Homo sapiens: one gene and its partners. Changing the gene in region 1 together with any one later gene gives a genetic interaction. Each region holds a gene or a part of one and is shown on either strand. Other genes may lie near its edges.

Region 1 (4,776 bases):
CGGTGTCCTCTTAACAGTCATAATAATAGTCCCCTTGGTGCACTGTATACTCTCAAGTCTTAAATGTTTTGTATGCAGCTGTACATTGACAGTTGAATGGTCTTACTCCAACTGGATCAGCAAGAACATAAAGAATCATTTAGCTGGTACAAAGTTGCAACTTGTGAATTCCCTATTAACACCAAAGAAGATGTGTGAGACTCCATACTGAAACTAAAGACGACTTGTGAGTTCCACACTGAGACCAAATAAGTCTTTATGATGGTGACAGAGAGTGGTGTCAACGCCTAAAGTTTTGGTCAATCTCTCTAAATTGAGGGGCTGACCAAAAGGGGGAATTGTTAAAGCGAACTAAATATGGCCCGAAGAGGACTCCGTACTTTTATATTTGAGTCCTTGTGGACGAACTGTAACCTAGCTCAAATAGGCAGACAAAATCGAAAACCTAACTTAGTAGTATGCATCTGTAATAACAGCTGAGTGTTGGCCAATCCCAGCGGCCATACTTCAACCACTCATAGACTGCTGAGTGTTCAAACTGCGTTCAAATAAGGCAAACGCCGAGCTGTAACCAATCTCACTGTTTCTATGTCTCAATTCTGATTCCTGTAGGTCACTTTACCTTTTCTGTCTATAAATTTGTTCTGACCACGAGGCACCCCTGGAGTCTCTCTGAATCTGCGGTGATTCTGGAGACTGCCCAATTTGTGGATCATTTTTTTTCTTTGCTCAATTAAACTCCATCAAATTTAACTTGTCTGAAGTTTTCTTTTAATTCTATGTTTTGCCCAAGGTAGAATGATTAGCAAATGGTGGAAAAGAGATTGAAACTAGGGTCAGCCAGACAGTAAATCTCAAATTATTTCCACAAGCGACACTTGTGGGCAAGAGTGTGGGAAGCAGCAGATGCAGAAATACATGTGGCCCCAGATAAGAAGCTAAGGTGACATTTTGGACTCCCTGCCACTTCCTCCAGAGCCCCAGGATGATACTGCACCTTGCTGTGGTTCAAAACTCCATAGGATGAAGTGTGATGGAGGTTTAATAAATAAAACAAAAAAAGAAACCAAAAAGAAAACCAAAAAAGTACAAAAAAAAAAAAGAATAAAAAAGAGAAAGAAGGGTGCAGAGCTGAGACAATGAAAGGGCAAGAGACCCAAGGAGCTGGCATAGAAGGCTCATAGGAGGAGTAAAACTGGACTGAATATCCAATTGAAGAGTCACTGAATATAAGGCTGAGGCTTAACTTTTTTTCGTAGGCAATGGGGAACTACAGAGTTCCTGAGTAGAATAAGACTAATGAAACATTAATTTAAAGAAAATAGTAAAGATAATGTTAGGTCAAAGTAAATCAGAAGGGGAACAAAAAGGTGATCTTATTTCAGTTACCCAGATGTAAGGGGAAGAGCCTAAAGTTAGGTGGCAGCAATGAGAAAGGAAAGGGAAAGGCAGATACTCGCCAGACTAGGCACAGGAGGAAGGACAAAGGAAAGTCACCAATCACCACAAGGTTTTATCCAGCGTGACCCATGTTATCACTTACAGAGAGGGATATCAACCAGAGAAAGAGCTCATGGTTCCACAACGTTTAGCTCACCCTTCTTTCAACTACATCCTTACATCCATTTAGTCTATTGAGTCAGAAGAACTCTGGTTCCAATCACATTTCCACTGCTTACTAGCTGTGCAGTTAGGGCAAATTATGAATTTTCTAAAGCCTTAGTTTCTTAATCGGTTAAAATGGCATAATAGCTGTATTAGAGAGTCGCCATCAATAATCAATAATCTGATATTTCTTTCTTCTCCTTACCTATTCACATCCTCCTTATCTATTCACCCACTTACCACCTTAGATTATGCGGTTCATCGTTTCAATAACTCTTTTGCAAACATTCTAAACTCCCTCGTCCTCTGACTTTTCTGTTTGACTTGTCCAACAAAATACAAACCCTACATGAGCCTTATTGTTTTTCTCTCTGCCTGTACCCAGGGAAATAAAGCACTACTGGAGAAAATCACACCCAACTGGAAGCACATCTCAACAGGGCCCTCAAAACTACTTAACAATCCTACTTCATCTCTCTTAGCAATTCATTCTTCCACTCTCTGCTAGAAGAGCTCTTCTAATCTCCCCTTATCTCTCTTGACCTCCCCAACTCTCAGTAGATGACCTTGCCCTCTACTTCACAGAGAATGGAAGCTATTAGAATGACACATGTTCAACTTCCTCATACAAAAACTGTTCACCTACTGTATCTCCACCAATCCTCTTCTTCCTCATGTAAAATTAAGCGATCTTTCTCCCATTAAAGGTGAATCACTGTTTGGAATTCTCTTTCCTCCTGCCCTTTGAGGAATCTAAGTCAAATCTCTCCTCCCATATTTATTTTTTATTTTTGAGACAGGGTATTTATTTATTTTTGAGACGAAGTCTTGCTCTGTTGCCCAACGTGGAGTGCAATGGCATTATCAGGGCTCACTGCAGCCCCACGTATCTGGGCTCAAGTGTGATCCTCCTGCCTCAGCTTCATAAATAGCTGGGACTAGAGGTGTGTGCCAGCATGCCCAGTTAATTTTTTTTGAATTTTAGTAGAGACAAGGTCTTGCTATGTTGCCTAGGCTGGTCTCAAACTCCTGAGCTCAAGCGACCCTCCCTTTCAAAGTGTTGGGATTACAGGTGTAAGCCACTGCACCTGGCTATGTCTCATCTTAAAAGGGGGAAAAAAAGTACCCCATTTCCCTGCTCTAGCTATTTTATTAAAATAAAAGCCAAACCATCCTGATTTCCATTTCTTTTTTTTTTTTTTTTTTTGAAACGGAGTCTTGCTCTGTCACCCAGGTTGGAGTGCAGTGGCTCGATCTCTGCTCACTGCAACCTCCGCCTCTGGGGCTCAAGCGATTCTCCTGCCTCAGCCTCCTGAGTAGCTGGGATTACAGGGACCTGCCACCACACCTGGCTACTTTTTGTATTTTTAGTAGAGACAGGGTTTCACCATGTTGGCCAGGCTGGTCTCGAACTCCTAACCTCAGGTGATCCGCCCACCTCGGCCTCCCAAAGTGCTGGGATTACAGGAGTGAGCCACTGTGCCCAGCCTGATTTCCGTTTCTATCACTTCAGCGAAACAGCTCTTACGGAGGGCACCATAGGCTTCCAATGGCCATTTTGCTCAATTCTGGTTTTATCTGACCTCTCAGCAATACCTGACAATGTTGACACCTCCTCATTGTTGAAAATTCCTCTCCCCTGGGCAGTCTCTAGCTTTACCTCTATCTCACTGGCCACTCATTTTCAGTATCCTCAACTACCCTTGGAAATGTTGGGAACTCATCAAGGCTTAGACCTAACCTACTTCTCACTCTCCCTAGGCAATCTCATCTACACCCATTTCCTCCATTACCATCCACATACCCATGTTTCTCAAAATTATGTCTAATACAGTTAAGTTCCCCCTTTTGGTCAGCCCCTCAATTTAGAGAGATTAACCAAAACTTTAGGCGTTGACACCACTCTCTGTCACCATCATAAAGACTTATTTGATCTCAGTGTGGAACTCACAAGTCGTCTTTAGTTTCAGTACGGAGTCTCACACGTCTTCTTTGGTGTTAATAGGGAATTCACAAGCCGCAGCCTGTACCAGTTAAATGATTCTTTATGTTCTTGCTGATCCACTTGGAGCGAGACCATTCAACTGTCAACGTACAGCTGCATACAAAACATTTAAGACTTGAGAGTATACAGAGCGCCAAGGGGACTATTATTGCGACTATTAAGAGGATACCATCAAAATGCTAAGGCGTACTCCTTGTTGTTATTCAAAAACAGCAATCAAAGAACAATAGAAAGTGTACAGAATTAAACATGTCTTTAAGAGTTTTCTTAAAAGTTCATGGAAATGAAAAGTTGCAATGCTCAGTGCTAGGTGTCCTCTAAAAGGAAAAATAAAAATAAAAAAATTAAGTTGCCGCCAAATGCAGTGGCGCACGCCTGTAATCCTGGCATTTTGGGAGGCCAAGGTGAGAGGATTACCTGAGCCCAGGAGTTCGAGGCCAGCCTGGACAACACGCCAAGATCCTGTGTGAAAGAAAAGAAAAGAAAAGAAAAGAAAAGAACAGAAAAGAAAAGAAAAGAAAAGAAAATTAAGAAAAGAAAAGAAAAGAAAAGAAAAGGAAAGGAAAGGAAAGGAAAGGAAAGGAAAAGAAAAGAAAAGTTGCGATGGCCAATATTAAAAAAATCAACAGTAAAACCATGAAATGAATTAAGGAAATTCCCCAGGACATAAAATGCAAAAAAAAAAAAAAAAAAAAGGTGAAAAACATAAGAGGAAAGTTAAGTGATGCAGAGCTGTGGTAATGTGGTATCCAAAGGGAGTGGGAGGATGGGGGCGGAATGCATCCCGTGGGATGAACAAAAGGATCTACTGGGATTCAGGAAGAAAGTACTGAAGCTTCTAGATGCAGTATGTTTTGTATCTTATCCTTTAAGATTATGTTAGGGTTGACTTACAATGTAAATAATTAGTACAGATACATATATAATTTAAAAATAAAAAAGTGTGCATATATACATAGGGTATATGTATGCTTTTCCTTTTAACAGACGACGAGTACAAATCTTACTTTGGAAATCACGGACATAACATATCAATCTAAGAGGACCACTATCCTCCTAAGAGATGTCTAGAAAGAAAAAGGACAGGAAAAATGAAAGGAAGATAATAAAAAATAAGAGAGAAAAACGTCTCAGAAATGAAGAAAGATAAAGGGAAAGGCCCACTG
Region 2 (4,153 bases), on another chromosome or scaffold:
GAGTAACAGGGTGCTTGAATACAAACTTTTATAATTTACACCCAGCTATGTCCAAAGAAAACGGAAATAATTTATAACAACACATACACACACAAATAGGCAAAGATATGTAAAACAGTCATAAGCTGTCTTGAAGCTGGAGAAACATGTCCCTAAGTGAGTAAAACTTTAGGAAAAGCAGGGAGAATGAGGCAAATTAGTAGCAATATTTGTAATATAGGTTTCTGGTATTATTGTATATTTTCACTTGGAAGGGGGTTGAGGATACATTTTTATTTGGGATACTTGTTCTTGAGATAGTATTATGTTCTCAATATTTTGGTATTAGCATTATTATAGCTAATGATGCTTTTCCAGAAAAGTTGAAACAAATAACTTTTAAAGATGCACATAAATAGAACGTAAAAAAACCCCAATAAATAGTTTTCTTTTCTCTTAGAGATTATCTAGTTCAGTGGTTCTCAACCTTGGCTGCACAGTGCAATGACTTGAGGAGCTTAAAAAGTATAAATGCTTGGGTCCCACTGAGCATCTGATTTAATTGGTCGAGGATACAGAACGGGCATCGGGAATTTTAAAAGACCTTGGTGATCCTAAAGTGCAGGTAAGGTTGAGAACTGCTGCTCTAGTTCAATATATAATCAGGTATACATTAACGTTAAAATGTGTAGGTGTTCAGAGTTCTGATTTTTAACCATAGCACCATCTCAAATATTATAAAAGGTTGAAAAAAGAGCCTAATTTAATCAACATGGATAAATTTCAAAAAGCATGTTGAACGATACAAGCCAGACACAAAGAGTACTTATTGCTTTCTATTTACATAAAGTTAAAAATAATCAGAACAGGGGGAGGGGCTACTGACTAGGAAGGGACGCAAGAAGGAAATTCCTGAGAGGGAAATTTTCTCCATTTTGATTAGGGTACACGTATATATATATATATATATATTTATCAAAACTCACAGAAATGGACAATTGAGCTCTGTATGTATGATTTCATTACATGTAAATTTACACTTCAGTAAAAAGGATAAACAATTAAATCTGGATATCTATGACAGGGTCGGGGAGGGAGAGATTATTACTTCAGACGACCCCAAATCCTCATGGGTTAAAAGAAACAGCAAACCCCTGACCAGAACTGGCGAGAATGGAGAGTAGACAGCAGGGAGGGCCAAAGCCTAAGAAATCGCTACAAGACTAGATGCCGAGTTCGAACTACTGCCTGGACGGCAGCGCCCGAGCGCCCGCAAAAATAAGCCCCCGTGCCATTTCCGGTACTAGCAAATCCTCCTGTATGTCCCCACTGGAAGAGTCCGGTGGGAAACCGTGCCACCGCAAGGAAGGAGCCGGCGGTAGCTTGGTTCCTGAGCGGATGCTGGGGCTGTAAGGCGCGCGCGGTCAGCTGTTGGCGGTGCAGGGAGGAGGACGCCGGGGCTCGCCTTCCCTCCTCTGCCGCCGCTGCCGCCATGATTCCGGTGTCGCTGGTGGTGGTGGTGGTGGGTGGCTGGACTGTCGTCTACCTGACCGACTTGGTGCTGAAGGTGAGGGCCTTGGGCCTAAGGTCCAAGCCCGCGGTGCCCATGGCCGGAGCGCAAGGCCTTCTTTTCTCTTCCCCTGCCTGGCGCCTCCCGGGCTGGACGGTGCCCACGTGCGACAGTCCGCGTGGTGGATCGGCCCGGTGGAGTAAATAAAACATTGCCGGCCGCGGGAGGGTTGTGGCGGCCTGCGCGGCTGCCACTGTCGCAGTGCGGGGCAGTGCAGGCCCTTCAGCCTTCGGGTCCTGCCCGGGAGGCGCCAGTGGTGGGATCGGGAGGGCCGGGGCCCTGCCAGACCCAGCAGCTGCAGTGCAGCAGGGAGGAAAAGAAAACGTCTGCTTAGTAAAGACAGTGCTTTCCCTTATTGTTTTTAAGTTCAAAACGCTCTAGAGACTCAGATATTGGAATGAATCTAAATCAAGTCGTGATTGAAATCAGTAGTCTCAAATTTTTAAATGCATATGATCATCTGGTTTGCGGTCAAAATGCAGATTCCGATTCAGCAGGTCTGCGGCAAGGCCTAAAATTCTGCATTTCTAACCAGTTCCCAAGTGCTACTGATGCTGCCAGATCACAGAGTGTACTTCAAAGTAGCACACTCAAATAGCAAGGATTTACATAACCAGTTTCTAACTACTTGAATTCTGATTTACACGCTGCACCCCACTTCTTCACACTAACCAGATACCCTGGGTGCACGGTCCATTTTCCAGTTATTTGAGAAGGGTAGCAAAAAATCAGGAAGAGTCGTCTGACCACATGCTTCAGGCAAGCTTTTGGAATTGAGTACTGGGGGGTAGGGGATGGGGAAGAGTAACTATATATGTGGAATAAGATCATATAAATTCTCAAGTGTTTAATAAAAATTCCAGTTATGGATAGCAAAATCTTCATGTTATGAATACCATTTAAAATAGAAAACCATAGTATTGCATGTTTTAGCTTTAACAATAAAATGAAATGAGACTTTTCCTTCTATCATTTAAACTTGTAAAGTGCAGGAGGTTACATAGCGTAGTCCTTAGATCCAGGGCTGGGCTTCTAGCCAATGTGACCTTGGGAAAATTGCTATCTGTGCCTTGGTTTCTCATCTTTAAATAGAGATAATAGTAAGGATCTCCTAAGATTACAGAGAGAATTACATTAGTGTATCCACATAAAGTCTCGCTCCTCAACTTGAGGTTCAAGGACCAGTAGCACTTGCATCATTTCGGAGCTTGTTAGAAATGCAGAATCCCAGGCCTCACCCCTGACCTAGGGAATCCGAATCTGCATCTTAGCAAGATCCCAGGTGACTCCTCTGCACCTGTTTGTGTTTGAAAAGCACTGATGTGGCCGGTCACAGTGGCTCACACCTGTAATCCCAGCACTTTGGGGGAGGCTGAGGTGGGAGGATTGCCTGAGTCCAGGAGTTTGAGACCAGCCTGGGCAATATAGTGAGACTTTATCTCTACAAAAAATTTAAAAGTTAGCCAACCATGGTGGTGCATGCCTGTAGTCCCAGCTACTCTGGAGGCTGAGGTAGGAGGATCTCTTGAGTCTGAGAGTCAGAGGTTAACAATGAAACAAGATCGTGCCACTGCACTTTGGCCTGGGTGACAGAGCAAGACCCTGTCTCAAAAGAAAAAGCACTGATTTAAAGTACTTGGCATAGTGGTTAACGTGTCATAAGCAATACAGGCCACAATGATTTTGTTGTTTGAAAAAGCCACATGAGCCAGGCATGGTGGTGCAGCCTGTAGTCCCAGCTACTTGGGAGGAAGAGGCGGGAGGATCGCTTGAGGCCAGGAGTTCCAGGCCAGCCTGAGCAACATAGTAAGACACACACACAAAGCCACATGATTTCTTCATGTTGCATATGTGAAAAAAATCTAAAATAAAAAGAACTTTTACAGTCCCTAGTCACAAGTGTGTGAGGTGACCAAGATGTCACTGGTTTCAGTAACAACCCCTAGCTCCTTAAGAATGCACCAACCTCTGAGCAAAAGACCTAACGCCTACTCAGAGTATCTGCCTGGGAAATGGAGAGACCTCAACTTTTAGGAGCCTGCACCTTTAGTTTCTCTGCCTCCAGCTTGGTCTGCTGATCCACCCTGGGCTTTTCTAGGATTTCTGCATAGACATCTGTTAGAGAAGTTGTGTCACTCCTTTTCCAAGTCTTGGAAAACAAGTACACTTAAAATTTAACTACCTGAAGACTGAGAGCAGATAATACTACAGATCCAAAGCAAACAGCTACCTATATTCAGACTATGGTCATTTTTTAAGACTATGATAGGGCTAAGATTTCCTTCTTGGACAGATAAGTTTCTCACATGGGTGGGCATGAATATGACAATACTTACTGTACTTACTGTGTCAGGTATATAACACAGCCTTATGTCATCCAAAATCCTATATTAGTCAAGGACTTCAAACTTCCCTAAAGGTAAAACTCTTGTTGGGGCTGTGTATAAGCCCCTATCCCCACAACCCCAGAGAATTTAAGGGACATTATTGAGCCCAAGATGGCTTTAGATAAGTTTTTTACTTTTTACATGATCGAGGTTGGCCTAACTTCTTAGAGTTGTTGCTCAGAAGAAGAAAGCAAACACTGATCGCAACTGTCCCTTC
Region 3 (4,776 bases), on another chromosome or scaffold:
ACCACATGGGGTCAGTGCTACCTAAATTTCAAAACACTAAGCTAGCAGGAGTAGAAATTGAATTTGCTCTACATGATTCAAGCTTTAATGTGGAACGAATTTGAGTCAGACATAATTTTTAAAGAATGGATTACATTTTTAGGGGAAAATTAGGAAAAAAAATTGTTTACATTTAGGACAAAATGCACTGGAAATTGCCTTTCTTCAACCTATTTGTTTGAGCATATTAATGGAATAAAACATTCTTTTGAATCTTAAATTGGATGACAGTTACAATAGCAATTTAAAGACCTCTCAGGAACATTTTATCTCACTGAAGAAAAATTTCAGAACATTATGGAAAATTACATCTCAGGAGGCTTAAGTCTGAATCATCTAGCTATTGGCACATAGTCATAGGGGCATGATTCAGACCATAATTGGTTAAGGTATTTCCCTCTTAGATCAAACTATTAATAGTGTGTAGTACAACTAGTACCATAAGAATTGTATGACAAACACAAGTTTTCAAAAATAACATCATGTACTTATCAGATATTTGAAATATTATCTGGAATTACCAGAGTTCATTGATTTGGTATTTCACCTAAGCACAAATTATTTTTCATAAGTTCATTAGATTTCTTTTTAAAGATAATGGATAGAAACTAAAAAGAACAATGATTCACCATCAGGCTATATTTGGGGAAAAGTCGCATGGTTACTAGGTTAGAATGATGAAAACACTGGTACCAACATTAAGATACTGACACTGGAGATGCTAACACAATGATGTTTATGTGATGATAATGAAACATTAGTGTTGCATCAGCTTACTCCACCACTCTGCTGATGGATATTGCTGATTGAAGGCTAAGCATTAAAGTCACGTGTATTCTACTTTGCCCAATAGCTTACTGTAGTTAGAATGGTCTTATGAGCTAACGCCAACAAGTAAATAACACTTTACTTAGCCAAAGAAGAAAATATTCAGAAGTAATCTCAGAACTTCACATAAAAAGTGAGTGACACTGTGTACATGCTAGGTGACATAAATCCTTGCTGAACTACTTTAATCTATGCAGTAGTGGTAGAGTAGGTTCAATATAGCCACAAATTATTTGCTGCTACTTCTACTGAGAGTTGGCATCTAATTCCCTTCCCTTTAAAACTGAGCTGGCCTTAGTGACTTAACAATAGAATGCTGTAGAAGTGACTTTCTTGGATATCTGATGATAGGCAAAAAGCCTGGCAAATTCTGCCTAGGGCCACTTGTAACATTGTCTTTAGGAGCCCTGAATTACCCAAGTAAGTTATATCTGACCTATTTGAGATCACCATGCTTGAGAGGCCACGTGTAGGTGTTCTAGTCAATAATCCCAGCTGAACCCAGTCATCCAGCCATCCTTAACAAGGTGCCAGAGATGCAAATAAAGCTGTCTTGGACTGTCTAGATCAGCTCATTTGCCAGATGAACCCCACTGGGCCACCTCTGTCAATGCCACATGCAACAGACAAATCACCTGTCTGAACTCAGATCAAATTCATGACTTACAAAATCATAAGATGTAATATAATGGTTGTGGTTTTAAGCCATTAAGTTTTGGATTAGTTTTCTACACATCAGTAGGTAACTGGAACAATTAATCAGAAATCTCTGATATTAAACCACTATCAGAATTGACTTACCTTGCACCAGCCAATGTAACAACCAGTTGCAGTGCGGATGGAAGCAAAGCCCATTTGTAAATGACCAGGCTGCTCTTCAACATATTTAGACTGGAGCGGTGGTGCAGTATATATGGGGAGCTACAGGCAAAAAATGTTCATGTCAAAAACATAAAATAGCTGGACTGTCCATAACAGCGGTATGGCAGAACAGGAATCCTCATCAGCCTTCTTTCTAAAAACAACTAAAAATGCTGATAAAATACTTTTAAAAAACCATCTTAAATACAGGAATGATGTGGTAAACTGTTTATAAAGACCGTTTAAAACCCAGAAATTAAAAGATGCCAAATATAATATAATCCAATGGTTCTACTCCTATGTATATTTAGAGAAACTACTGTCTTTGCACACCCAGAGTTAGTATAATAACGTTCACAGCAACATTTTAATTACAACCAACCCAATGTCCATCCACAGTAAAATGGATCCTTTGGGGTATATTCGTACAAAGAAATATTAGAAATTAGGGGGTAAATATAAAAATTACAGCAACATGGAAAAATTTGGATGAATTTCAGGAATATAAGGTTACTTAAAAAAAACATTGCTTAGCAATACAGACATATAAGGTAAAATTAAAAAGTAAAGGAGGGGAATAATAGTAAAAATTCAGGGTAATGGTAACCTCTGAATGGAATGAAATGGAAACACAGAGGATTTTGTTTTCCTTTAAATTGGGTGCTAGGTATACGGTTGTACATCATTATCATCATCATATTATTATTCATACCTTTCATATTTTGAACAGCCTTTTGATTCTAATTAGTATTTAATAAAAACAAACATACACAAAAGAACAATGAAAAACTTAACCAGGTAGGGACTTACTTCCTTTAAAAAAAAATTTTTTTTTTTTTTTTGCTTTTATATTTAGGGTATAAATCCTCCTATGAAGCCTGGTGTTTGAGGAAGATAGAACTGGGAAGAATCAAGTTTACAAATCAACATCAAGGGAACTAGATGATTAATGACTTTGGATTTGCTCCTCTACCAACAACAAACATGAAACTATAGTTAACACTATATTGTTTTCTTGAAAAATGCTAAGAGTGGGTATAAAATGTCCTCAACACAAAAATGATAACTATTCAAGGTAATACATATGTAAATTAGACAGATTTAGTCATTCCACAATGTATATATACTTCAAAGCATCATGCTGTACAAGGTAAATGCATACAATTTTATGTCAGTTTTTTTATCTAAAGTTAAAAAATAAATAAAACATAAGACAGTGTGAGTTTGGTAAAGCTTTTCCAGTAGTAAGTCAGAAAAGTCTTGTTTTACCATTAAATGACTCTTTACTACCCATACCAGGATTAAAGAGTTAGTGTTTTATCTTTCTGGACTAATGCTTAAATTCACCACATTGGCAACTATGTATAATTAGGAAGGTGAGAGATGCATATCTTATTAAAGATGCGTTTTATATATAAAAAGCAGGTGCACTGCAAATAGGCAAGTTTCCTCTCTCCCCTAGAAAGGAGAGGTATATGTGGATGTACTGGTGTCAGAGTGGGCAACGTTATTTACTTACATGTTTGTCCATCATGTTTCTATCCTCTTTATTATTTACACATCCCAATTCCAAACTTTATTACACTCATTGTTCTTATTCTCTCTCCTCTGTCCCCATCAAAACCTGCTGATTAAGTTGTTTTTTGTTTGTTTGTTTGTTTTTTGAGACGGTCTTGTTTTGTCATCCAGTCTAGAGTACAGTGGCATGAACACAGCTCACTGTAGCCTCAACCTCCCGGGCTCAAGCAATCCTCTCACCTCAGCATCCCGAGTAGCTGGGACTACAGGCACACCCCCAACAAACCCGGCTAATTTTTGTATTTTTTTTGTAGAGATGGGGTTTCACCCTGTTGCCCAGACTGGTCTCCAATTCTTGAGCTCAAGCAATCCGCCCGCCTTGGCATCCTAAAGTGCTGGGATTACAAGCATGAGGCACTGCGCCTCACGGGTTCAGGTTCTTTATCTGTTTGTTGCCTATTATAAACAAAATTTTGTATATGTAGTTTTCTAGGAAGAGCATTCAAAGTTTTTATCAGACTCTCAAAGGGGTCAGAATGGTTAAGAACCAGTGTTTTAAAGTATTTTCCTTCTAAGGCATAGGCATAGTTGAAACGTTTATGATGATAGGATTTCAGCTCTACTTTAAGAATTTTAAGAGCTAGCCAGTAGCATGTTACTATAGCCTCCATTGAGAAAAGCATTCTCACTACAAATTTTAGAGACCTTGGGGCTTAAATGCCACTTATTGTATAGATAGAACTTGTATGTTCTCATTTAGAAATTATGATTACATTGAGTAAGCTATAAAACCACATTTAAAATTAAATTGAACCAAAGTAACTAAAACTCTCAAATCAGTATTTTTCTGTTATTTCTCAGTGACAACAAGCAAATGGCAAGAAAATAAGTATAATTCATCTCATAGAGGGATTTTAAAAAGAAATGTCCAGGGATGTCTAGGGCTGGCTGTATACATGCATTCCAATTGCCAGTCATTTTACTGATCTGAATACTACAGATTTCATGGTTAAAAAAAATGATTGTCTCATGGTGCTACAGAGTTTTCTATTAAAGGGAGATTTAATTATGTTCACTAGATGGCATATAAGGCAGGAATATATTGAGAATATTTAAAAAGATGTTTAGTGAGAAGAGTTGAACTAAAACAGATTTTCTGTTTAGCTGCAAGTTTACCAAAAGATTCAAACAACCAAATAACCAGAACACTTCATTCATAAAGTATTCTGGTTTAGTAGAAGTGTTATTACAGATTTAAACAGAAGTATAGCTCACTTTACACAATAAAAGTAGCTAGAAATGTTGCGCATAAATCACATTTTAATCCCTTCAGAAATTCTACATTCCTCAAGGACTAGATCCTGACTTTGTGTATAGTTCCTAGCACATAGCTGGCAACAAACTTTGTTTGATAAGTAATTCAATTAAATGATATTTAAAATGTACTTGGGGAATACAATAAATACCAAGGAATACTGCATATTCCATAATAAGCAGCACTACTTTATTTTAAAATTTCAAAAATTAAAT
Region 4 (5,278 bases), on another chromosome or scaffold:
CTGTCAGTTTGGGGGCTGACTCATCCTGAGACCCTCAATCCCAAACCAGGTCTTCCACTGGTGGCTCAGGCTTTTACACCAATAAGATAATCGCAGTGTCATAGATCTGATTTTTGAACTTACAGGAAGTGTAGTCCAGGCCATTTACAAAGCTAATTTCTTTCACTTTACTACAAGAATGCTTGGTGACTATATAAATTACAAAATAAGACTGAGAAAAGACTAATCAATTCCATGGGAAAAACAGTGGTTGGGTTGGGTTTTCTGACTGTGTACATGTTGTATCTAACTATTTCAAGGCAGTTCCTTCACATATTACTATTAACGATTGATTTACTGTGGCAAGGTTGAGAATCCTTGGGTCATTACCACAGGTATGTGGGTCTGTGCAAAAGAAAACACAAACTTTGAGAGGGCCAGACCTGAATTCACTAACATTGAAAACAGTAAAACCTATCATCTTTGGATCCTTCTGTATCTCAGCAGTTATTTACAAACCTATGCATCACCCATGCCTCTATCTTTTCATCAATTAGGAGTCCTGCTTGTTCTATTTTTAATACCCATTTTGAATTGTGTTACTTATCTTCTCTATTGCTACCATCCTAGTCCAACCATCATATCTCACAGCAACAATTTCCTAACTCCTTGCTTTCTCTTACCCCTTCAATTCACTGTCTACATAGCAACTACGTGATTTTTCTTAAGAAAATCGAAACTCCTTACCATAACTTACAAAATCCTACATTAGCTGTCATTCCCTACCTCTCTGATTTCACAAGCTTCAATTGATCCAACTCCCTTGTAACTACGAAGACAGACTGGCCTAAGAGCTGTTCCTTAAACATGCCAAATTTGTTTTGTTTCAGGACATTTGCACTAGCTATTTTCCTGGATACTTGCCTCCCAAGCATTTGTACTGTATTTGGGTCACAGCTCAAATGTCAACTCCCTTGAGATGTTTTCCCTAATCCGCTCTAAAATGGCATCCTGCTTCCATCACAATCTCATGACTCTGCTTTATTCCCTTTACAGCACTTATCACTAAAGGCAATGTTTTAATTTATGTTTGTTGGTTTACCTCAGTATTATGTAAGCTCTGTGAGCGCAAGGGTCCTCTTTTCAAAAAAAAAAAAAAAAAAAAAAACCCACAAAAACCACTATAGTCCTGCCCCCAGAAAAGTAGCTAGCACACTGTAAAAGCTCAGTAAATGGTGTTCATTCCCTGGTCCCCCAATTTACCTTCAAATCTTAATCAAATTAATTTAACAATATTGTCACATTAAGGAAGTGTATATGCCCTTTGTGCTCTGAAACTCAGAAATACTAAGATTAATATGAAACTGTGTTCTAAACAGGTAAAGTAGTAGCTCAGGCCTAGGAATCCCAGCATTTTGGGAGGCCGAGACAGGAGGATGGCCTGAGTTCGAGAGTTTGAGACCAGCTTGGACAACACAGGGAGACCCCATCTCCACAATAAGTCAAAAAAAAAATTTTAAAAATTAGCCAGGTGTGGTGGTACGTACCTAGATTCCCAGCTACTTAGGAGGCTTAGAGGGGAGGATTGTTTGAGCTCAGGAGTGCCAGGCTTCAGTGAACTATAATCATGCCACCGCACCCCAACATGGGTGACAGAACGAGGTCCTGACTCTAAAAACAAACAAAAAAAAAACGAAACAAAACACCATGTGTTGTAGATTCAGTTTTTTGACAAAGGTGACACCAGGGAAATGAAAGGTCTTTTATATTTTTTTGCACTAGAGTCAGTCTGAACATATTTCGTTGTTGTTGTTCCTTAGTATAAAATACCTAGAGAAATATTACAAGGATTCTCTAAAAAGAAAGTACTTTCGTAAAGGCTTTATCCACGACCAACTGCCTATCTTTAGGTCCAAGTTCTATTTATCTAGTTGAACAACCACAGTTACAAAGTACCAAAGTTCTGGAAAACATATTCACAAGACCGAGGAGAGGCAAAGGCAAGATATTTATGCCTCTGTATACCTTGATGTTGCCTATTTCCTTTCCTATAATTCTTACCTGGCTTCTTTCTTCATGTCTATATATCACCTTTAAAGTTCAGCTTACTTCCTAGCTCCTAAAGAAGGTTTCCTAGCCTGTCCCAAGTCATATTTATTTCTCACTTACATGCAATATTACTGAATATTCTGCCCTTACGGCTACTTGGAGGCTCAGAATATGTCACTGTGTACTAAAAAGTTAACTACGGGCTTGCTATTTGGAATACATTTACTCCCAAAGCTGGGCTCTACTCTTAAGGGTCAATCACACGGCCCACCACACACAAAACGTACGAGGCTTGGATATAAACCTAAGAAAACATGCATCATCTCGCGAGTCCAGGTCAATCACGGACAGCTTCCCCAGGAGATCCGTGGCCCTTTTTTAGGCCTTTCTATCTTGAAAGAGCAGCCATGCAGATACACTAACCCCACCACTGGTACTTAAGCTTGTAAACGCCAGCAAGGAAAAAAAAACCAACAACATAAAACATGGGACGCGCAACTTTAGTGTAAACGCAAGAACCAGTCAGAAATAATCGCAAGCTAGGCCCCATACTTACGCGGGACGCCAGCCAAATCCGCGTGCGAGTAACCTGCTTCGCCGGCTCCGAAAAAGCCGGCCAATACCCCTGTGGTTTTGTCGCCGCTTCCCCCGCCTCCTTCCATGGTATCGCAGCAAACCGAGTGGTTCCCGCCGCTGCCTCAAGCCTGGGTGGTCCGCTGGGCCGTTACTCCTCAATAACAGCGGGTAACCCCGCGTTGCCAGCGCCTACTTCACACGCTGACATTCCGGGCGCCGGTTCCCGTTAAGCGCCACACTTCCGCTTTGCGGCAGTGTGCGCCCCGGAAGCCGGAAGCGCCTGACGGCAGCTTTCCGGTGGTGGGAAAGTGAACGAATCCCGAATCAAAGCGGCGCATTGAGGCAGGTGGGGTGCCAGTGGAAGAGGGAAGGCAGGCGAGTGTTTACGGCCTGACTTGGGAGGCCGGCGGATCAGCAATTGCAGAAGCAGGCAGCGGCAGAGAGGGAATGGTGCAGGCAGGCGCTGAGAAGGAGGCGCAGTCCATCTCTCTCAGGGTTAGTGAATGAGGCTCTCCGCCCGGGCCGGCCCGGGGACAGTGCGCTGCTGGTCCCAGCATGAATGCGGGCCCCGGCTGTGAACCCTGCACCAAGCGACCCCGCTGGGGCGCCGCTACAACTTCGCCGGCTGCTTCGGACGCCCGGAGCTTTCCCAGCAGGCAGAGGCGCGTCCTCGACCCCAAGGACGCTCACGTGCAGTTCAGGGTCCCACCGTCCTCGCCAGCCTGCGTCCCAGGGCGGGCGGGACAGCACAGAGGCAGCGCCACCTCGCTTGGTACGTGGGAAAATAAAAATCTTTGTCCTTCGCCTCGGCCCGAACCTTCTGGTCTCAGTCTGAGGACCCAGGGGCTCCAGTCACTCCTTTCTGGTCTTGTGTGCATCGTCACTCTTGAGGTCCACTTGCTGAGCTACCAAAGCCACTAGTGGGTGAATGGGGCCGCATTTTTCCCAGTGCGATTGATGTGAGAAACTCTGATGAGCAGTCACTCACAGGGCGGAAAATGGCAGGAGACTCCACCACCTGTTTGCTTCTTCAGGTTTGATTGAGAAATTGCCTTAGTCGTCAAGGAGATCTAATTGTGTATGTAAAACAGTAGGGCGCTTCAGCCTCTAGATAGGAAGAAAACAACTTCACTTGTTCAGATTCTGGGTCCCAGGGTGCAGAGCTATTAGTTTAAGCTGGCATTGTACCCGTCCCTGGTATACAGTGTTGAACGAGAGAAACTTGGCCTCTGCCTTCATACCTTAAAATCTATCTGGAGAGATAGACGATAGCAAAAGTTAATATAATAAAAGGTAATGGATGTTCTGATAGATGAATGACAGATTGTTTTACCTAACTGAATTTATGGAATCGAAAATAGTCCTCCAGAAGATGAGATGCTTATTCTGAGGACTGTAGAATGAGTAGGAGTTAGATGAAGAGGAAGTAAGAAGTGTTTCAGGAGTGCAACCGAGGCCGGGCGCGGTGGTTTTGCCTGTAATCCCTGAGCTTTGGGAGGCTGGGGCGGGTGGATCACCTGAGGTCAGGAGCTCAAGACCAGCCTTACCAATATGGTGAAACCCCGTCTCTGCTAAAAATACAAAAAATTAGCCTAGCGTGGTGGCGGGCAACTGTAATCCCAGCTACTCGGGAGGCTGAGGCAGGTGAGGCAGGAGAATCGCTGGCATCCGGGAGGCGGAGGTTGCAGTGAGCCGAGAGGGCACCATTGCACTCCAGCCTGGGCAACAAGAGCGAAACTCCGCCTCAAACAAAACAAAACAAAACAAAACAAAAACAGGAGTGCAATTGATATATAGAGTGAACGCAAGAGAGTGTGAGAGATGAGGCTGCAGGGTGGTACAGAAAAGTCAGATCAAATTGGATATGTAGACATTGCTAAGGATTTTGAACTCTAAGGGCATTGATAAGCTACTCAAGGGTTTTTAGTAGGGGAGTGACTTGATTAGACTTATTTATTTGTTGAAAAGTCTGTGTGGCTGGTGTGTGGAAAATAAAGAATGGATTGAAAAGGAACTCAAGTGGAGCATCAAGACTCAGTTAAGGAGTTAATCTAGGTTGGAAATAATTGTAGCTTAGGCCTGGATGCTGGCAATAGGGAAGGGGATGGATTCATGAAAGAATGGGATACTTGAGAAGAAATATTTCTGTGCTGGAGAAGTAGATTGGGGAGTTCGTGGCATAAACATTATAATGGATGCTATGGGCATAGATAACATAAACATGTAGAGAAAGTAAAGGTGACCTAGGGCAGATGCCTTAGGAACACCAAAGTTTAAGAGTAGACTGAAGAGAAGCGGCTGTAGAGGTGGGAGGAAAGCCTGGCTTGTGTTGTGTCAGACAAAGGAGATCATTTCAAAAAGGATGCATTCGTTAACAGTGTAAGAGGCTGGGCAGAGCTCGGGCAGTTCTCTGGTGAAGAGTCTACACTTAGATGTCTTCATACTTAGGGGCAGTACCAAGTAGACTTGCACTAGGCCTTGAAGGATGAGGAAGATTTGCTGTATAAATCAAGAGGAGAAAGAATTATACATGCAGAGGAAATAAGACATGCAAAAGTTGGTAAGACTGGAGCATAAGATGACAGAGGAGTGTCTGATGAGGCTGGGTGGCAGACAGGAGCTTATGAAGAAACTCAAATTCCATTTTAAGGAATTTCAACCTTATTCTGTGGTT
Region 5 (4,776 bases), on another chromosome or scaffold:
AATAATAATATAGTCATATATCTTATATAAAACACTAATTGTATTTACATATGAATGCTAATGTAAAAACATATTTGCAAGATTATTTTATGTAAAAATAATTATGAAAACTTGAAGCATACAGAAAAGTAGAGATACTAGAATAATGAGCCCCTAAACACTTATCATGTAATAGATATCCTTTCCCTTGCTGAAGTTTTTGGAAGTAAATTATAGACGTCATGATCATTTGCCCGTAAATGTTTGAATTTGTGACCCTAAAACGTGAGGATTTTTTCTTACATGAGCTAATGCCATTTTCAGTTTTAATAGAATAAAACATACTTTCTTAAAACTGCCTATTTCTTATTCCATATTCAGATTTTCTAGTTGGCCCCAAAGTGTTTGTTGCACGGGGTCCCACAGGTCACACCTGGTCGGCCCGGGTTTCTCCTGGGCACCCTCTAGGGGACGGCAGAGGAGTGTGCAGGCCCAGTTTCTTTCTGGCGCACTCACTTTCCAGGTGGCCTGGCTGTTCCCGCCTGGTGTTGGGTGCCATGTTCCTGTGTTTCCTGAGCACTGGAACTTAGATCCAAAGACTTAGTTTGAGTCAGGCTGTGCCTTTGTAAGCAGAGTCCCTCATGGGGAGCTCTCCATAGACGGCCACATCCTACCATCATGTGAGGTCTGCTCGCCTCCACTGGGGATCTCACACCAGCGGGGTCCATGCTGAGAGTCAGCCACTGCCTTGGGAAGATCTGCTTTTTCCCTTCAGCCACAGACCATCTGGTGGGCTTGAGTTTCTGGTGTCCTGTGATAATGAGTTCCTCATCAACCTATTAATGGTTTTCATATTCATTGAGGATTATTGCCTGAATCAATTACTTTATTAGAGTTTGCGAAGTTTTCTAGTTCTGTAACTTCTTCATTTGTTTGCTGGACTTCTTCAAAGAAGAGCTCCACATCAGCTGGGCTATCGGGTTATCTTGAAATATGGTTCTGTGGAAAAGGCAGGGCCGGCTGCTCTCCCTGGGAAGTCCAGTTTGAGGAGGAGGGGTGGTGCAGGAACTACTTTTAATGGTGACAGAAGAGGCTGTCTTGTTTTTTTTTTTTTTTTTTTTTAAAGACAGGGTCTGGTTCTGTCCCCCAGGCTGGAGTACAGTGGCATGATCTTGTCTTACTGCAGCCTCAGCCTCCTGGGCCACCTCAGCCTCCTGAGTAGCTGGGACTACAGGCGCACGCCACCATGCCCAGCTAGTGCTTATATTTTTTTGTAGAGACAGAGTCTCGCCATGTTGCCCAGGCTGGTCTTGAACTTCTGAGTTCAGTCTGCCCACCTTGACCTCCCAAAGTGCTGGGATTACAGGTGTGAGCCACTGCGCCCAACATGGAGAAGAGAGTTCTTTCTTTTCTTCTTTTTTTTTTTTTTCCCCAGTCTTGTTTTGTTTTTTAGTACCACTCTGACCTCACAGAAATATTTCTGTATATGTATATATTTGAGATTATGTGATCAGATGGAATTTATTCATTTTTATGCCCACATTTGCCCCAGCTGTGGGCCCGTTTTGGTCTAACTTCTTTGGTTTCTACGCCCCCACCCCCACCTCCCTAATGCACGCACAGCCGGGCCCTCCCTGCTCCAGAGGTTCAACTGTCTGTTTCCCCAGGGAGCTCTGATTTCTGTGGCTAATGGGGAAGGGTCTTTGGAGAGCAGCATCTGAACACTAGGGGTGGTGATTGCTCCTGGATTCTCTCAACCCCGAGTGTGTAAAATTTGTTTCTAAATTCTAGAGTGAGAAATTTCTGAAGGTTCTGTAAGATACTAGTTTCCCAAACCTTAACCATAGCTCAGGCTATATAGTAAAGAAAAAGATAAATTCTGTCATTGTAACCTTTTTCCTCTGGTTGAATAAATGTGTTATCTTTATAAACGTGTATAACCTTGAATTTGTTGCCAAAAATTGAGTTTTGTGAAATTGTCAGTTGGATTACTATATTACTGTACCTAGGGTTATAAAGTGTTTTAACAAATACCTCATTTGGTTTTTGTCACATCTAGATGAAGTTTAAAATGTAAGATCGATTTTTGGCTAGGTGTGGTGGCTCATGCCTGCAAATCCAAGCACTTACGGAGGCCAAGATGGGAGGATTGCTTGAGGCCAGGAGTTTGAGACCAGCATGGGTAACATAGAACCCACCTCTAAAACTTAAAAATTAGCCGGTCAGGCACGGTGGCTCACGCCTGTAATTCCAGCACTTTGGGAGGCTGAGACGGGTGGATCACCTGAGGTCAGGAGTTCGAGACCAGCCTAACCAACATGGTGAAACCCTATCTCTACTAAAAATACAAAAATTAGCTGGGCATGGTGGTGGGCACCTGTAATCCCAGCAACTTGGGAGGCTGAGGCAGGAGAATCTTTTAAACCTGGGAGTCGGAGGTTGCAGTGAGCTGAGATTGTGCCATTGCACTCCAGCCTGGGGGGACGGGGCGAGACTCCATCTCAAAAAAAAAAACCCCCCACCAAAACCAAGTGTGGTGGTGTAGTCCTGGTAGTCCCGGCTACTGAGGAGGCTGAGGCTGGAGGATTGCTTGAGGCTGCAGTGAGCTGTGACGGTGCCACTGCACTCCAGCAGATGCCTGAAGCCAGGAATAGCACCATGCCCTGTGAATGAACGTTGAATTTATAAATTAGGCACAGCGAGAGGTTAACAACAATAACTAATAATAAAATAGAACAATTATAACAATATACTGTAATAAGTTACATGAATTTTGGTCTCTCGAAGTACCGTGATATTTTTGGACCTTGGTTGAGTAAGGGTGACTGAAACCGAAAGGCGAGACCTTGGGTAAGGGGCACTCCTGTGCTGTGTTTCAGTGAAACAGACAGCACTTGATCTCACATCTTTTAAACTAAAACAGACTAATTATATTCCCTTAAAATTTTAGGTTCTTCACGTACGGTAATTTTCCATTAGAACAGCATCTGAAACAAATTCACGAGGAAGCACTGAGCAAATTCCAGAAAATTGAACCAAGCACCGTGGTGCCAGCTCAGACACCCTGGGACAAGCCTGTGAGTGCCCCACCGTGTTTGTGTCCTTCCTGGTAAATATGTTGACATGAGGACTTGGACTGGGTATTGATGATGGGATTTCAGATGCTGTCATGTTTGGTACAGAGTATGGGAGAGCTTTTCAAGCTGAAAGAATGGTAATTTGTTTGAAAGGAAAGTTAACTTAGTGGAAAGCCTGTTTCGCTCCATTTCGTGTATCCAGATAACCTAGAGTAGTTGACAACCGTCAGACACTGTGCCTACTCACAACGTCACGTCATTTTACAGAGGGAATTCCAGATAACATGTGGCCCGGATTCATTTGCTACAGATCCCTCTAAACAAACAACCATCAGCGTTAGCTTCCTCTTACCGGAGTAAGTATATGCTGTCAAAGCTCATACAAGACAAAAACATGAGGAAAATGTTCCTATTAGAAGGTTCGGAAGTGAGTTCTACAATTGAATGTTAATTAATATACGGTTAGGATTCAGGGGTTAAGTGGATTTTAGGAATAGAGAACAAAATGTCGAAGTTTTTAATAACATCCAAAATGGTTTTTGAGGAAAATCGTTTTTGATAGCCCTCCGGAAGAAAAGTAATTTACTTATTGTATTTCAAAGCTTTATTCCTACAGAGAAAAGACTGCCTCAGACCAGCAGGTGCTCACATTTTGAGGTCACAGGTCCCTTTGAGTGTGAGAATGGTACTATGAACATGCACCTCGGCAAAATATATCACATACAAAACTTTGTAATTCCGGTGGTTTCACGAGACTAGGTCGGAACCATGCCCGGGGGTGTTCAGGAAGGGAAGGCTTGGGCTCTGGGCCCTCCCGTGCTCAGCCTGCAGCTCCGTGGCTGGCACCTCTCCTGGCTTGTTCCTTGTCTCCTTAATGGTGCTGCCACAGTGCCTGTGATTTAAATCACGTGTGAAAAGTGCTTGGCAGGCTGTCCCATGGTGAGCATTTCGTGTGCAGTGAAGTTAATTTGATGGTTTGTGCCCCCCTTCAAAAATCCCGGTATTTAAGGAAAATTCTCTTCTGCTCATAAAATTGTTAAATGTTGAAATGCAAGAATTTCTAGAAAGATGTGTAGTGGTTTTAAATAAAATGTGCATAAGGGCCAGTAATTTTCCCTTTACTCTTTTCTTACCTCCCCGTTCCTTTTTTTTTCAATGCAGCATCACCGACACATTTGAAGCCTTCACATTAAGTCTTCTGTCTTCACTCTTGACTTCTGGGCCCAATTCTCCCTTTTACAAAGCCTTGATTGAATCTGGCCTTGGCACAGACTTTTCTCCTGATGTTGGGTGAGTTTATGATTAGATTAGATCAGTAGTTCTCATTGGTTGGGGGCAGTTTTGCTCCTCCACCTCCGCACCCTGTCCCGGCCCCACACTTGACAGTGTCTGGAACATTTTTGGATTTTTGATTGCTATAATCGGAAGATGGCGGACCAGGAAGTTGCTGAGTGTCTCATGGTACACAGGATGGCCGCCCCCATCAGGGAACTCTGGATGAGATCCTGGATCCAGTGCCAGCCATTTGTGTCCCCCCAAGGGGACATTTGTCCAAAAGAAAAACACCCAGCACAAAGACAGCTTTTCCAGGGCCTCAGAATGTCATGCTGTTGTCTCTTACAGGTCAGGTCATTAAGTATTAGAATTTTTTTTTTAGATGGAGTCTCTCCCTGTCGCCCAGGCTGGAGTGCAGTGACGCGATCTCGGCTCACTGCAAGCT
Region 6 (4,774 bases), on another chromosome or scaffold:
TAGCCGTTGAATCTGTGTTCCCATGTAAACTGTACACCAAATGCCAGTCAGCCCATGCCAATTAGTGCTCATGTTGCTAGGTCACCGTGGTCAATTGAAAGCTGCATCAATAGAACTTGAAAAGGTTTCCTCCCAATCAGACCTTCTGACATATTGAACAGAATAATGGATGGGAAAAAACAGCCAAGTCTCCTACCCTGGATTCAAAATACTCAGCAGTAAGAATTCATTTGCAACCTGCAATTAAGTAGAAAGAATGGATCCAAGAACGAGTCTGGACATTTTTGAAAATAAAGCCTCATTCTCCTGTCTTGTACATGTTTACTCTTTGGATAGCATCTTAAATGTAGCCATCTTGGTGATCTTGGGTCTACATCTTTAAGTGACTAAAAAGGAAATTTCCCAATTGAAAATGAACAAAATAACTTTTAAAAGTCAGAACTTCTCAGTTGAGTTTAAACATCCATTGTAATAAATGCTGATGCTTCATGAAACATGTTAGATTATACTGGATATAAGGGACACAAAGGCCATTCTGATACTCTGTATCCCATATGATAAATCCAGGTAAATTGGATTGTACTAAAATTTGGAGATGATACCTGCCGATTTTAGGCTTTGTGCTGTATAATAGGTGTGGCTTCTGATGTAAAACTGGTACTTTCCTACAGAGGCGTTGGGGCTGAACCTCTGCTCCCATGGAACCGGATGCTGCAAACCCAGAATGCAGCCTTCCAGCCAAACCAGTACCAGATGCTAGCTGGGCCTGGTGGGTATCCACCCAGACGAGATGATCGTGGAGGGAGACAGGTAAATGGTTGTGGGATGAAAAGTATACTGCTCACTTTATATTTCAACAAGCCTCACAGGACTCCGTATTTTCTTACCAACATTTCTGGAGAAGACACTGATAGAGTAGCTTAGAGTAGCTTGGCTGAACTTGGGTCTGTCATTAAAAATGTATATGGGTTGAGTACCTGCTTCACTAAATAGGTTATATACCTTGAAGATGCCAAAGAATTTCTAACCCAAAAGCCCTTTAAATCATAGCAGTCAGTGATAATTAGTCCAAGTATAGTCAGTCACCAAAACACATTGTTTTTCCTTTAAGGATATTGTTCTTCAATAGAACCTAGATCCCTCTTAATGGGTGATGATTTTCTGGAAGCTGGAAAGTAAGTCTGCTTTTTCAGCTGTTGTCTTTTAGAAGTCATTTTACAATGTTGTCATTTTAGAAGTCTCCTGCCTTGATTCATCTGATATCCCTCCTCATAAAAGAAATTTCTGCTTGATAATCTTCCACATATTTTTCTTCTCAATGTAAGCAGCTGTATCACTGAATGACTATCATAATTCCTAGACAAATTTAGTATATGTAAGCTTCATGTCCTTCTCTTTACAGCATCCAGTTTTAGCAGCATTTAAGACTGAGGTCTATTTGACATAATTTCCTCCAGCAATTTGACACCCTGGCCAGTATTTACATGCTCTTAATGGAATCCTTACTAGAGAACAAGATTAGAATGCTGTGATTCAGAGTAATGTGTATGGAGTTTGGCACCTGCAGTGATGTGAAGTGGTTTTTAAATTGCTTACCTGGTGTTGCCTCCAGGCCTTTTGCAGTGCTTCACATATTAATTAGTAAGACCTCTCTTCTCACAGCTAAGGAACATATTTTGTATGTTTTTTGATGTATTCTTACAAGTATCTCCACCTTACAAGAAGATAATCACCTTAATTGCAAATAATTTCTTCTGAGATTTTGTTACAGTTTATTTGAATCAGTTTATCGAATTTTGCTTTGAATTCTTTCAGCCCAGGACCTCTAAAAATCGTGTCAGTGAACTAAGGCTCTTTATGTTACTATGGTTAGATGGCACTAGGCCGTTTCAGTGATGAGCATTTTTGAAGTGAGGACTATTTGTAACTGGAAGAAACCTTGGAGAATGTGTAGTCTAGTCACCTCATTTTCCAAGTCAGGAACTGAAACCCTGAAAACCCCACACGGTTCAGCAGGAGAACTGGTAGCTGGCTGCCTAGACTGCTGACCCCAGTTCATCCATTTTCCTCTCTCCTTTGGAGATCTTCCTTTTAAAGGAACTCTGTGCTGTTACAGGAGGTAAAATTCTTATTTACTTAGAAGATATAAACCAATTGGTAAATTTATTATTCTTTTAGGACTTTTTGAAAATAACATTTCTTCTTTCTCAGTCCCTTTGCCAGGGAGATACTTTTTATTAAATCACAATTGTTGAAGCACTATTAAATTGCAGAAGTTTGTTGTTAAAAACATAGAATCATTACTTCATTGTATTTTTAGTAAAGTTTTATATGACCAAACAAGGCCTTAGCCTGCATTCTGGCCTTGAGTCTGCACATGTTCATGTTTAAAGTACTGAAGTGCTCTCTGGGTGGCAAAATGAGGTGGGAGGGGGTTCCATTTCAAAACCCTAGAGGCCTAGGAAAGGACTTATAATGAAGAGGTGTCAGGTTTATCTTTTGTTATACAGAAATGTTATTTGCAAACATACTAGGATATGTTATAAAGGTCACGGCTAATGGATTGTGTAATAACCTTAATATGTCATTTAAAGCCCTACTATTTGTTGCTAAATAAAAAATCCCTAAAATCAATTGCTCATTTGGCCTTAACTGACTTAGCAAGCTCTTGCCTTGGTTAAAGCAAAGTTACTTTCCTTGTGTAATAAGTCTAAATTGATGTGGGTATCTTACCACAAAGTGACTTGAATTACTACTGCTAGGACAGTGAGAAAATTGAGAACCACTGTCTGTACATGTTGTTTACACAGAACACTTTAGTTATTTGTGTGCATTTGTGATTGTTAAGGTTTTTTGTTTTATTTTTCAGTAATAGCATTTGTGCTAGCCTCCAACTTTGCAACAAGTCTGTATTAAAGCTCTGGATCAAAGCACCTTTTATGGGGCCTTTCCATGTGCTGTACCTTTAACACATACTCAGTTTCCTTATGATGTGTTTTTCCATAGAGGTTTAAAGTTAACTGACTTGCAGGAGTATCGGTCCAGAAAATAAACTCTTTCTTTTGTTTATTTTCAGGGATATCCCAGAGAAGGAAGGAAATACCCTTTGCCACCACCCTCAGGAAGATACAATTGGAATTAAGCTTTTGTAAAGCTTTCCCAAATCCTTTCATCATTCTACAGTTTTATGCTATTTGTGGAAAGATTTCTTTCTCAAGTAGTAGTTTTTAATAAAACTACAGTACTTTGTGTATTTCTTTTAACTGTGTATATTTCTACTGATCTGATCTCACTGTTTATGTTGCTTTCCAAAGATGTATGTTGCATAATACAGTGGATCTGAATTTATTATTGCTTATAAAACACATTTGATGGAATAGGAGTACTGGTTTTTCATAATGGTTAAAAATGAAACCAGCTGTGGATTTCAAAACACAGTGTATTCTAGATCATCTAAGATCCATGCTGATTTTTATTGCACAAGAATTAGGTTTGAACTCGAGCTGGAACCTCAGCAAACTAGAGTATATATTGTTCAGTATTTCTTTGGAAACATTTCATTAATGTACTTGTCTTACAGAAATTTCTGAACTTTAGTAAAAAAAAATAAAGTTAAACTTTTAAAACTCTGTTTTGTGTTGTTATTTTGCAGTATTTCAACTTTGAAAATCTTGACCAAGCGTGGTTTTTTAAAATTAACTTTTGCAGAAAACTATTTCTGTAATCAGATGTCCAAACCAAAGGACAAAGAAGTCAATGAAGAAGTAGATTTTAAAAGATAGGGTCAGCAAGACATAACAAAAGCTTTAACTTTGTTGTATTATGTCAGTGACTGATCTGGCTAACTCAGAAATCTTTGTGAGATAAATTACATTTTTACAAATTTAATGTAGACTTCTCCAGTTTTAAGGACTTGTTTTAAATCTTCAAGTTGACAATTTTAATTAATGGCCAAATAGTCTATGCTCCTTAGCATATTTTTGTATGTCATTAGATTGCAATTTGTACTCATGTTTTTCCTTGCTACTAAGTACACTATAAATTGCTTAAATGTGTGTTTGGAGTTCACATACAGCACTTACATATGCATTTTCATTTGATTGCCAAAACATATTTAGACACACATACAGAGACTATTGCTTTGTTTCAGTTTTTCCCTCCTAGCCCAAGATTGTGAGGTAAAGCTTCTCTTTGACCTCCTGACTTAGGATATTTTTGCTTTAATATTCAACTGAAGCACGCTTGTTAAACTTAGTCTGTGGGAAAAAAAAAAATCTCACCTCAACCTTGAATAGGAAGGTATTTTGTAGCTATTGAGTTCATTGCTAATGATGGGTGACCAGAGCAGGATCCTTTATTGTTGAGACAAAGAGTCTCTCCATCAGGAATTACCAACCCAACCCTTACATAATTGCCTTCGCTCAACATTCAAGTGATAATGCCTTCTATTAAATTTCTCTGTAAGTTTATCTCCCAAATATTAAAAATGTAGACAGCCATCTCAGTAAAGCATTGCATATTCTAAAGGAGCTTATAAATGTTTTACTGTTTATAGTTCATAGTCAAAACCCACAATTCCACTCTTTATATTCTCAGACCTTTAGTTTTGGCTTAGTTTTAAGCTGGCCTGAGACTGACTCAGTTTTTGACTGAATGTTTAAAGCACTGTTTGGAAGACATCTGAGCAAAAGGCCTGATGGAGAAACTGATGACGGCAGATTTCCTCTGCAGAACTGGCAGGTGTTCCCTCGCTGAGCCGGCTTCAGGCCCTGCT

What was found.
Region 2: changes in OPA1 (region 1) and MBTPS2 together harm fitness less than expected from each alone (positive genetic interaction), as found in Homo sapiens cells (one large-scale study listed by BioGRID).
Region 3: changes in OPA1 (region 1) and APOOL together harm fitness more than expected from each alone (negative genetic interaction), as found in Homo sapiens cells (one large-scale study listed by BioGRID).
Region 4: changes in OPA1 (region 1) and TIMM23B together harm fitness more than expected from each alone (negative genetic interaction), as found in Homo sapiens cells (one large-scale study listed by BioGRID).
Region 5: changes in OPA1 (region 1) and PITRM1 together harm fitness more than expected from each alone (negative genetic interaction), as found in Homo sapiens cells (one large-scale study listed by BioGRID).
Region 6: changes in OPA1 (region 1) and XRN2 together harm fitness less than expected from each alone (positive genetic interaction), as found in Homo sapiens cells (one large-scale study listed by BioGRID).

The regions. Positions count from the first base shown.
Region 1 is NC_000003.12:193,595,727-193,600,502, reverse strand, and holds part of OPA1 (dynamin-like GTPase OPA1, mitochondrial), read right to left. Parts: intron 1-4,776. UniProt on the Homo sapiens protein: Dynamin-related GTPase that is essential for normal mitochondrial morphology by mediating fusion of the mitochondrial inner membranes, regulating cristae morphology and maintaining respiratory chain function.
Region 2 is NC_000023.11:21,838,264-21,842,416, forward strand, and holds the start of MBTPS2 (membrane-bound transcription factor site-2 protease), read left to right. Parts: upstream 1-1,353; 5' UTR 1,354-1,471; coding exon 1,472-1,546; intron 1,547-4,153. UniProt on the Homo sapiens protein: Zinc metalloprotease that mediates intramembrane proteolysis of proteins such as ATF6, ATF6B, SREBF1/SREBP1 and SREBF2/SREBP2.
Region 3 is NC_000023.11:85,048,401-85,053,176, reverse strand, and holds part of APOOL (MICOS complex subunit MIC27 precursor), read right to left. Parts: intron 1,789-4,776; coding exon 1,669-1,788; intron 1-1,668. UniProt on the Homo sapiens protein: Component of the MICOS complex, a large protein complex of the mitochondrial inner membrane that plays crucial roles in the maintenance of crista junctions, inner membrane architecture, and formation of contact sites to the outer membrane.
Region 4 is NC_000010.11:49,939,607-49,944,884, reverse strand, and holds the start of TIMM23B (mitochondrial import inner membrane translocase subunit Tim23B), read right to left. Parts: upstream 2,833-5,278; 5' UTR 2,691-2,832; coding exon 2,585-2,690; intron 1,651-2,584; exon of another isoform or gene 1,527-1,650; intron 1-1,526. Other genes in the region: PARG (poly(ADP-ribose) glycohydrolase), read left to right, coding at 3,160-3,376. UniProt on the Homo sapiens protein: May participate in the translocation of transit peptide-containing proteins across the mitochondrial inner membrane. the PAM complex.
Region 5 is NC_000010.11:3,158,484-3,163,259, reverse strand, and holds part of PITRM1 (presequence protease, mitochondrial isoform 2 precursor), read left to right. Parts: intron 1-2,929; coding exon 2,930-3,056; intron 3,057-3,323; coding exon 3,324-3,412; intron 3,413-4,217; coding exon 4,218-4,346; intron 4,347-4,776. UniProt on the Homo sapiens protein: Metalloendopeptidase of the mitochondrial matrix that functions in peptide cleavage and degradation rather than in protein processing. Has an ATP-independent activity. Specifically cleaves peptides in the range of 5 to 65 residues.
Region 6 is NC_000020.11:21,386,197-21,390,970, forward strand, and holds the end of XRN2 (5'-3' exoribonuclease 2), read left to right. Parts: intron 1-671; coding exon 672-810; intron 811-3,076; coding exon 3,077-3,142; 3' UTR 3,143-3,629; downstream 3,630-4,774. UniProt on the Homo sapiens protein: Possesses 5'->3' exoribonuclease activity. May promote the termination of transcription by RNA polymerase II.